Linked DNA regions of Homo sapiens. The protein of the gene in region 3 purifies or fractionates together with the protein of the main gene of each other region. This does not show direct contact. Each region holds a gene or a part of one and is shown on either strand. Other genes may lie near its edges.

What was found.
Region 1: the proteins of WBP2NL (region 3) and MGA purify together in Homo sapiens (affinity purification with mass spectrometry; 3 studies listed by BioGRID and IntAct, with this or other methods). This does not show direct contact.
Region 2: the proteins of WBP2NL (region 3) and ANKRD40 purify together in Homo sapiens (affinity purification with mass spectrometry; one large-scale study listed by BioGRID and IntAct). This does not show direct contact.

What each region holds. Positions count from the first base shown.
Region 1 is NC_000015.10:41,663,308-41,666,961, reverse strand, and holds part of MGA (MAX gene-associated protein), read right to left. Parts: intron 1-3,654. UniProt on the Homo sapiens protein: Functions as a dual-specificity transcription factor, regulating the expression of both MAX-network and T-box family target genes. Functions as a repressor or an activator.
Region 2 is NC_000017.11:50,697,805-50,701,458, forward strand, and holds part of ANKRD40 (ankyrin repeat domain-containing protein 40), read right to left. Parts: intron 2,913-3,654; coding exon 2,764-2,912; intron 2,090-2,763; coding exon 1,595-2,089; intron 1-1,594.
Region 3 is NC_000022.11:42,019,159-42,022,812, reverse strand, and holds part of WBP2NL (postacrosomal sheath WW domain-binding protein), read right to left. Parts: intron 3,503-3,654; coding exon 3,394-3,502; intron 3,169-3,393; exon of another isoform or gene 3,152-3,168; coding exon 3,010-3,151; intron 2,810-3,009; coding exon 2,717-2,809; intron 565-2,716; coding exon 457-564; intron 1-456. UniProt on the Homo sapiens protein: May play a role in meiotic resumption and pronuclear formation, mediated by a WW domain-signaling pathway during fertilization.

The DNA.
Region 1 (3,654 bases), on a different chromosome or scaffold from region 3:
TATCAAAAGTACAAATCCATATATCATCCTATGACAAAGAATTGTTCCCAGGACTTTAAGTTTTCTTAATTCACTGTTAAAACCCACTATAGGACTTTATTTTAAATACACACACCTGTGATAAATGATATCTATACAAGATTATCCCCTGCATTCCCACTTATAACAGCAAAAGACTAGACAGGAAGAGAGAAGTCCTTAAAATGGTAAAACAAATGATGACACATCCATAGAGTGGAATGTTAACAGTCACAAAAGAGAATGTATAAGCTTAATGAATGCATGCAAAAAGTATCTACAAGATATATTAAGCGTAAAATGTTCAGAAGAGTTGTAAATTATGCCACACATCTTTTAAAAGTTTTTTATTGTACCTCTTAAACTTCAGACAGGGAGAACACGTGCAGGTTTGTTTACATGAGTCTACTGCATAATATAAGGTTTGGGCTTCTAATGATCCCATCATCCAAGCAGTGAACATAGTACCTGATAGGTAGTTTTTCAACCCTTGTAAAAGATTTTTCCTTTTTAAAATCAAAGAAATAGACAGTATTTCGGTCTTTAAAATAAATAAAAAGCCAAAGAATGAAAAAGAACATGTACATATTTGCTTTACACAGACTATCTCTGGAAAGACAGAAAAGAAAACAGTAGTATTGGTCATATCCAAGGAAAACTTGATGACTTGGAAAAGATACCCTTTTACACTTTGTAAATTTTGTGTCTTGTGAACACACAACCTTTAAAAACTAAAACACAGGCCAGGTGGGCAGGTGCAGTGGCTCACACCGGTAATTCCATCACTTTAGGAGGCCCATGTGGGAGTAACGTTTGAGGTCAAGAGTTCAAGACCAGCCTGGTCAAAATAGCCAGTCAGTCTCTACCAAAAAAAAAAAAAAAATAGCAGGTATGGTGGCCAGGAGGCTGAGGCAGGAGGACACCTTCAGCAGCCCTGGAAGTTCAGGTTGCAGTGAGCCATAACCATATCACTGCACTCCAGCCTAGGAGACAGAGTGAGACCCCGTCTCTTTAAAAAAATAAAAAATAAAGTTAAAATTAGTTAATTATTAAAGGTTATAAAGAAAAAGGTCACATATATTGTATGATTCCATTTATATGAGATGTCCAACACAGGCAAATCTAGAGAAACAAAGTAGATTAGTGGTTTCAGGGGAAGGGGTAACTGGGACTAACTGCTAATGGGTGTGGGATTTCTTTTTGGTGTATACTTTAAAATGATGAATTATATGTTATGTGAATTATATCTCAATAAAAAGTTATAATAAAGAAATGAGGCCGGCCATGGTGGCTCATGCCTATAATGCCAGCACGTTGGGAGGCTGAGGCAGGAGGATCGCTTAAGCCCAGGAGTTTGAGACCAACCTGGAAAACACAGTGAGACTCCATCTCTACAATGGTGTGTAGCTGTAGTCCCAGCTACTTGAGTGGCTGAGGTGAGAGGATCCCTCGAGCCTGGGGGTGGGGAGGCCAAGGCTGCAGTGAGCTGTGATGGTGCCACTGCACTCCAGTCTAGATGACAGAGTGAGACCCTGTCTCAAAAAAAAAAAACCAAAACGAAATCTGATTGCTAAAATCAACCGAACTCATATGCCAAATTAAAGCTACAGCTTCCAGTTTTTATACAAAAAGGAAGATGCTACATCACCACCACTCCTGTGTAAGTGGGTCAGTAATCTTAATCAAATTCAGCCACTTATTAGTCTTCTTCATTATAATTAAAAAGTATTTTACCTTTCATCAGAGCTAATGATGAGCAGCAAAAGCACCTAATCTGAATTTTACCTCTTCTTACAAGATTGGTCATACAGCTCCAAAGCTTAAAATATCTGTTAGTCTACAGATAATAGATATTTTTAAAATCACGACTTCAAAAGGTTTACTATTGTTTCCTATTATGACTAGAGATAAAAATAGAAATTCACTTCCCAACACTAAAGCACTAATATCAGGAAAGGTCAGGAACAACAACAACAAAAAATCTCTCCTCTGATGTGAAGTTTATTTTTAAAAGAGATAAAATGTACAGTGATTCTTTTCAAAAGCTGCCTCAAGCTTTTACCTATGAAGTTGATTGGTTTTCTAAAACTAACACACTTAGGCGATACCTATCAGAGACTGACAAAACAAAACTAAACGGAAGTCACAAATAAGGTAAAATATTAAAGCTTAAAGAACTGGCAAAAAAAAAATACCTCTACAATGATGTATAATTCAAACAATGCAAACTCCTAGCTTGTACTTATTAATTCATAAACTTCAAGGTTTTATTACAAATCACCAACTATTTTTGTGAATAAGTATGCAAAACATCCTTTGTGTGTATGTGTTCCACGTGAGCACAACATCCTTAGGTGCATTTCATATGACTAAGGCAGCAAAGAAGTATATGAAAAAAAATCTAGTTATCCCAAACCTATAAATTACATGAAAAGGTGCCGAATTTATTAAACATCTTTCTATAAACTAAAATTTTGGTTTTCAGATCATTACCAGTAAAACCAAGACAGAGAAGTTTTAACCAATTCTTTAAAAATTACTGTCTTTTAAAGATTAATCTATGAAATGTCAAAGATGCAGTTGACAAAAACCCAGTTTGGTGAAAATCAGACTGCACTTGAAGTAAATTTTACACTAACTTTATATACACACACTGAGTTTTTCTTTCTGCCGAAGCAAAATATTAGTGCAGAGAAGTCATATCAACCTATTTCAACTTTGTGCACAGGCATATAATAAAAAAATGTAAAAATGTGCCTGAAGACAGGAAAATAAACTTCTGACTTATGATTTGTATAAGGCCGGTTTTTTAACTCCACTAATCAAATTAATCCATTAGTTGATGAAAATGCATTGAATTAAAGACTTAATTTATGACTAAAACCATCTCTATCTTGAGCCATAACAGCTACTGGTTTAAGAACATGGAATGAAATTCTTATTCTACATCAATCTAGGCACAGATTCCACTTCGCTATAAGCATATGCCTAGGTTTGGAGCTACCATATGAATTTTCTTTTTTTTCTAAGATAAATATTGTAAAACATTTGAATTTTCTAATCAAAGGGCAGTCAATTAAGGATATTCAGCTGTTTCAGACACACCAAGACCACTCTAAAGTCTACTTAAGCCAACCGCAAAACTCAAATGTACTTTAGAAAGGGGTAGGCTAGGCCGGGAGCGGTGGCTCGCGCTTGTAATCCCAGCACTTTGAGGGGCTGAGGCGGGCGAATCACCTGATGTCAGGAGTTCAAGATCAGCCTGGCCAACATGACAAAACCCTCTCTCTACAAAAAATACAAAAAATTAGCCGGGCGTCGTGTTGCGCACCTGTAGTCCCAGCTACTCGGGAGGATGAGGCAGGAGGTTGCAATGAGCCGAGATAGCACCACTGCATTCTAGCCTTGGAGATAGTGTGAGACTCGGTCTCAAAATAATAACAACAACAACAACAACAATAATAATAATAAAGAAAAGAAAAGGGTAGGCTACTCATGAAGAAATAAATCTTCTAGCAACATCCTAAAAATACTCTGGGAAACTAAAAGCTTTAATGAAAACCACAATTTTGGTATATATATACCTTAACATTCAAAAACTTTCAATTCGGCTTTTCAACATCAAATTTTTTTTTT
Region 2 (3,654 bases), on a different chromosome or scaffold from region 3:
AATCCCTTGTAGCACCCCAGGTCACTGTTAGCACCTACAGTAGTAACTCCTCAAAAACAGGAAGTGAGAGAGTTACTTCCAGGAAAAAAGGAAAAGTAAGACTAGCTACACCCTATGGCATTTGACTGGATTTGGAAGAATCAGGATGAACTTGTGGTTTTTAATATTTTTAAAAAGTTATACATAGAGAAATATTGATATCTTTCCTGGCTATGTCCTCTCAACGGGCCTAGAAGAAATGATATACCTGTAGCAATGAGGACACCTAGTGACCACATCCTGGTGTCTGAATACCATTCTCGGTGGGCCCAAGTGGGAGGCAAGTTTGCTGTGTGCCCTAAATACCATTCTCCACCAAAAAGAACCAGGGCTTCTTGGAGAAATGACTGATTCCAGGGTTGGGGCAGGAAAAGTTATGCTATAAGCCCGGAACATCTTGCTGCCCCAGAAAGTAAGGCAGTGCTCCAAGAACAATGAAGACACATGCAAGGGACATAAGAACTAGCTTCAAGGGGCTCCCACTGGCCAAATCTGGGATAATTTGAATAATTAAAAAATGATAGTAACAGATTATAACCCACTGAATAAAATAAGAATATATGAGTCAATACTGATATGAATGAAGGAGAAGGGAAAGCCCTTCTTTACAGTAAAATACCAACTAATAAGTAGAGAAAGAATGATAGAAAATCATATCCCACAAAAATAATTGGCCTGGACTCTTCAAAAAGATCAAGATCAAAAATGATAAAGGGTAAAGATTCCAGATTAAAGGAAACTAAAACAACGTGATAACTACATGCAACATATGATCCTGGGCAGGATGCAGGGGGCAGAGGAGTACAGATAGTCCAGATAGATATCAATAGTACAGATAGTACTATTTCTGTAATAGTACAGACAGTACGTATAGTAGATGAGGGAATACAAAAGGCAATGTTTGAGACAACTGACAAAATTTAAACATGGTCTATGGATTACAGAACAGCATTAGCTCAAGATTACATTTCTCAAATTTGGTCATTTGTACTGTAGTTATATAAGAGAATATCCAGCTGGGTGCGGTGATTCACACCTATAATCTCAGCACTTTGGGAGGCTGAGGCAGGCAGATCACTTAAGGTCAGGAGTTTGAGACCAGCCTGGCCAACATGGTGAAACCCCATCTCTACTAAAAATACAAAAAAAAAAAAAAAAAAAAAAAATTAGCCAGGCGTGGTGGCATGCTCCTGTAATCTCAGCTACTTGGGAGGCTGAGGCAGAAGAATCACTTGAACCTGGGAGGCGGAGGTTGCAGTGAGCCAAGATCACACCACTGTACTCCAGCCTGGGTGACAGGGCGAAGCTACGTCTCAATAAAAAAAAGAGAGAATATCCTTGTTCTTAGGAAAGATATAATGGAAAGAATACTGAAGGGTATCAGGGTAAAAGGGCAAAAGGTAAACAATTTGTGAATTTGAGTAAAGGGAGTTCCTTATGTTAGTCATGTAACGTTTCTGTAAGTTTGCAATTATACCCAGAATACCTCATTAAATCCCACCCCTCTGGACACCAACTCCCCTGTTGCAGAGGCTGTTTGCTGATGAGGGGTTACCTTGCATATTAAATGGAAATGCTCCAGTGAAGAAAAATGGCTGGAATGCTGGCGCTGGTCCTGCATACGTCCCATTTTGAGGCTCCAGAGACATTGGTGGCTTGGACGGGACAGAAGAAAACAGGGAGCGGCTCTGACTCACTGGTGGCTGACAAACAGGACCCGGTTTTGTGCTTTCTGGTGTTCTGAGTATGGCAGAGGGGGCCGACACATCACCATTCTGAACTAGTGCCAAAGAGGTGTGGTCCCGGGGAAAGGTCCCTAACAGGGGAGGTTCCCCAGGGGGAAGCAATGGAGGTGAGCCATCTGCAGGGGGTGATGCAGGGGGTGTGGAGGGGCCCCCATTCTGCATCTGGGCTGAATCCTCTGCTGTGGGTGTATAGATAAAAGGGAAGGCTGGGTTGGCCAAATAGTTGGGAACAAAGGGCAGTTCTGACTCCTTCTTCAGCTGGGGGAGGTTGTCATCATCATCATCATCATCATCTTCTTCTTCCACTTAAAAAGAAGAAAACAGAACATTTACACAGTCCTTTCAAAATTATCAAAACAAGGTGTCTTTTGAAAGTGGTGTCTTTTGGTATGTGACATTGGTCAGTGTCAGGTCAGAAGAAAAAAGAATACTTCATTAGGTTTATGATTACCATTTTTATCATTATCTTAAATTTTACAAATAAAAAAATAAAACCTTACAATGCTGACCTCCCCAGAAACAATCTGGAATTACTATCTTGGCACAGTAATTTGCTTTTAGAAATAGAACAGTTGCCGGGAGCGGTGCCTCATGCCTGTAATCCCAGCACTTTGGGAGGCTGAGGCTGGCGGATCACCTGAGGTCGGGAGTTTGAGACCAGCCTGACCAACATGGTGAAACCCCGTCTCTACTAAAAATACAAAATTAGCGAGACGTGGTGGCACATGCCTGTAATCCTAGCTACTTGGGAGGCTGAGGCAGGAGAATCACTTGAACCTGGGAGGCAGAGGTTGTGGTGAGCCGAGATCACGCCACTGCACTCCAGCCTGGGCAACAAGAGCTAAACTCCGTCTCGGAAAAAAAAAAAAAAAGAAAGAAATAGAGCAGTTGTTTGACCAGCATTAAGAACGTAGCCAATAATACCACAAGTCTTCAATGAGTCTGAGGAAATCAAAAGTTCCCCCAAACACAGACTCACCTCCCATAATCTTCCTGATTTCTCTCCTTGATGTTAACTGGACTGGCATTTCTCCTTTTGTGGTAAGAATTTCTTTGTCAGCTCCTGATTTTAACAGGTAAGAGACCACCTGACCATGGTTTCGTTTACATGCCCAGTGTAAACAAGTCCTGTACCAAAGAAAATAATGATTGAAAAAGAGGAGAAGTGATTTTGGATTTCAGATTCTAAACATTAGTAAATAATGTATAAACAAGCCTGTTAGAGTTCAGCTAGAACCAGGTAACCGGGCTGGTAATCTCAACTTTTCACAAAGCCGATGAGCAAAATATTTAATATGCTTAAATTTTGTTTTTAAATTTCATTTCTGGCTCCTGAGAAAAACTAACTTAACCTAGGAGTTTTAATTTCAATAGCCTCCAGAAGGTAAGCTCACTGGCTGGCTAACTCCAATGATACCGTGGAATATACTCTATCAGTATCGCTCATTAGATCATCTCAGTCTCTGAAACATATTTTTCTATTGCTATATTCCTTTTCAGGGACTATGGAAACTCACTTCATATGCCACCTGAAGATTCAATATTATCAGGATAATAACCATCTCCTATCAGCAGCTTGCTCTGTCACTTAAATTATTATTATGACAGCAGATATTCTTGCCTGAATCCCAGTTGCTCACTTTCTTTTTCCTTCTTACTTTTCTTTCCTTAACACACACACAAAGGATTTCCAAATTTCCATTTTTAAAAAGTTGGCTTCTCTAGTTCTCTCCAGAAGGCTACAAACATATCCTCATCTGCGTAAATGTAAGGCACTGCACACATACTTTAATTCCTGAGGTACTTAAAAAATATACATCAACAACCAAAATTCTTCACGAACAGGTTCTTCTAACATATCAGACTCATT
Region 3 (3,654 bases):
ATGTTTGAGAATTACTTTCCAGAAACCCCATTCAGTAGCAGTGGACTTTAACAACACAAACTGTTAAAGGACCCAGGGCTCGAGTCCTCAGTAAGGTTGAAGGGTGTGGCACAGGTATGATGACTATGCTATGTGAAATGGAAACAAGGAAGTGGGCAAGAGCATATATTTTCTGCTCAGGCTATAAACAGGAAGTGACCCTTCCCACTAACAGGATTGCCAAGTATGTTCCAGGTTTGTATATATCATTAAAAGTAAGCCTGAAACCAAAGCCCAGTCACTTGCTGACTTTGCCACTGGGTTTCAGTCTGGAAACAAAGTCACAGATGTGACCATTTTCCAAGCCCCTAAAGCTCTGCTGCTGCTCCTGCAGGGAGCAAGCCTGCAAGGGATAGATCTTTGAGCCTCTGGCATAATTTTCCACCTTCCAGGAAGAACCTCTCTGCCATACCTTACCTGAACAAGGCATCTGTGGAGTGCACATATTCCCTTCCCCAGTAATTACATAAATTCCCATAGAGCTGAACCAGTCATTTAAGGTTCTAAGTGGAAATCCTCGGGCAGCTGGAAAGACAAATTTGGCAAAATAGGAACTCTTTTAATTAAGTCAGATATATAGCAGATATCAACTAAACAATTAACAGAGTATTTAATCACCACCTTACATGTGTTTCCAACAATGCTCTTGAGACACAAGATAAAAAAGAAACATGGGCTGGGTGAAGTGGCTCACACCTGTAATCCCAACATTTTAGGAGGCCAAGATGGGAGGATTGCTTGACCCCAGGAGTTCAAGACCAGCCTGGGCAACATGGCAAGACCCTATCTCTACAAAAAATTTTTTAAAAATTAGCCAGGCATGGTGGTGCATGCCTGTGGTCCTAGCTACTCAGGAAGCTGAGGCAGGAGGATTGCTTGAGCCTGGAAATTTGAGGCTGCAGTGAGCCTTATCTGTGCCACTGCACTGGAGCCTCCAGCCTGGGTGACAGAGTAAGACCTTGTCTCAAAAAAAAAAAAAAAAAAGAAAGAAAGAAAAGAAATATGACCCTTGTCCTGAATGGCACGTGTCTTAAGGGCAGAGATTGTATCTCATTTGCCTGTGCTTATTCCAGGCCTAGCATAGCACCTAATCATAACAGATATTCAGAAAAAACTTCTAAGTGAGGATTCTACCAAGTTGGTAAGATATATCCATTAAAGACCAATGTGAGGAAGTGTGGTACCGAAGAAAACACTTTTGTCTTGTCTCCCCTCTGCATCTCTCTTATAAGAACACTTGTGATGGCATTTAGAGGCCACCTAAATAATCTAGGGTAATCTTGTCATCTCAAGATCCTTAAATTAATTACGTCTACAAACACCCTTTTTACAAATAACGTAACAGTCACAGATTCTGAGGATTGGGATGGGGATATATCTGGGGATCCATTATCAGCCTACCACACTGAGTTTTGCCTATGGCATGTGACCAGATGTAATGTAGACAGTTTCCAGGCCTGGCCCATAAAAATTTCCCAGGGGAGATCTTTATTTCCTTCTCTGCTGGCTGTACAAAGAGGCCATGGAAGCCATGGGTTAAAGATCGCAAGGACCGGCCAGGCGTGCTGGCTCACGCCTGTGATCCCAGCACTTTGGGAGGCTGAGGCAGGTGGATCTCCTGAGGTCAGGAGTTCGAGACCAGCCTGACCAACATGGTGAAACCCCGTCTCTACTAAAAATACAAAAATTAGCTGGGCTTGGTGGTGGACACTTGTAATCCCAGCTACTTGGGAGGCTGAGGGAGGAGAATCACTTGAACCCGGGAGGTGGAGGTTGCAGTGAGCCAAGATTGCATGATTGCACTCCAGCCTGGGTGACAAAGCAAGACACTGTCTCAAAAAAAAAAAAAAAAAAAAAAAAAAAAATATATATATATATATATATATATATATATATATATATATACACACACACACACACATATATGAGATAAAAAAATTATTTGTAGTCACAGTTTGAAAGAGTTCTGTGGTACATCCATTAGATCAGTGCTATAAGTCTTGACAGTACCTCTACTCCCCTCTCATGTAAGATGGGGACTAAACCTGAGAAAAGCAAAGGCAAGTCCAGAGAGAAGAAAAACTAAAAAGCCACACCAAAGAAAGAATAACTAAGGGCTCCCTGACCCAAGGAAGAGACGCTCAGTAGATATCTGAGGTCAGTGTTTAAATGGACAAAAGACTATCAGGTATAATTAGTCACCTGGGTGTCTGGCTGTAAGCTCCCACTAGATTGCAAGCTCCTTCAGGATAGGAAGGGACTGAATAATCTTTGTGTTCCTACCCTGTAACATGGTACTTGACAATTGTAGGTAGGCCCAGGAAATGCCTGCTGAATATGTGTGCGAATACCAACTGCCTGGCCACAAAGGCCAGCAAATCTTGGCTGAGTAGAAGTCCTGCTTTAATTCCACAAGCCTTAAAACCCCAAAGTGGGCTGGGCATGGTGGCTCATACCTGTAACCCCAGCACTTCGGGAGGCTGAGGCAAGAGGATCATTTGAGTTCAGGAGTTCGAGACCAGCCTGGGCAACATGGTGAAACCCCGACTTACAAAAATACAAAAATCCCTGTCTCAAAAACAACAAAACAACAACAACAGCAACAACAACAACAAAAAACCCAAACAAACAAACAAAAAACCCCAAAGTGCTTAATATCTTTATCAGCATCACTTACCAGCAGAGGCAGCTTTCACCATCAACTGGGCAAATTCAATGGCATCTCCATTTCTGAAGACTAATTTAAAAGTAGCTTGTCCTTCCCAGCCACCTGGGGGAAGAAATGGCACACACTCACCAAGAAACTGGCATAGCTGACAACAGAAAGACTGCCACAAACACCAAGGGAAGCACTACCTGACAAAGTAGGGCAGCTTTTGTTTGAATTTCAACATGAGCCAAGTTTGAATCTTAAACCTTTTAGAAGATTTTGAGGGAAAAAAAAATACACACTTCTGAGGGAACACTTACCATATGGAGCTGCCTGAATAGTTCCCTTAATGAAGTTTGCAGCAAATACTGGTTGTTCAACAGTGAGGTTCGTCATCAGATCAAATGGCATCATAAAAGACAACATGGGATCACTGATGGAGCATGAAGTTATGAAAATCACCTACGCAAGGACAGAAACTTTGGAAAAGGAATGCAGAATTTGTCCATGGATTGAGACTTACAAGAGCAAGGTGCATTCTGGTCTAACTGAGAAACATCATCTTTTCTTCCACCACCCTTCAGTGTGGAAAATCCCAAAGCGCACGTTTAAAAACACTTCAAAAGTCAATGTTTAAGTTTTCTTCATTTCAAGGAAAACAAATGTAGAGTTAATCAGCAGATTAAAGTAGAAGTAGAAATTACCCGGTATGAAGTGAGAAACAATGTTCCTGTCTTTCTACCACTAAAGACATTTGAGCCTTCTGATCGCTGTGGGAAGGAGAGCTCCACATTCGGAGACCGCTTCAAGAGACTGTAGAAAATGAGGAACAGACGGCACACAATAAAGAATGTATGTAAAATGACACACATAAAGTTCTTAACGCAATTTTTTTTTTTTTTTGAGACAGAGTCTTACTCTGTTGCCCAGGCGGGAGTGCAGTGGCACGATTTCACCTCACTGCA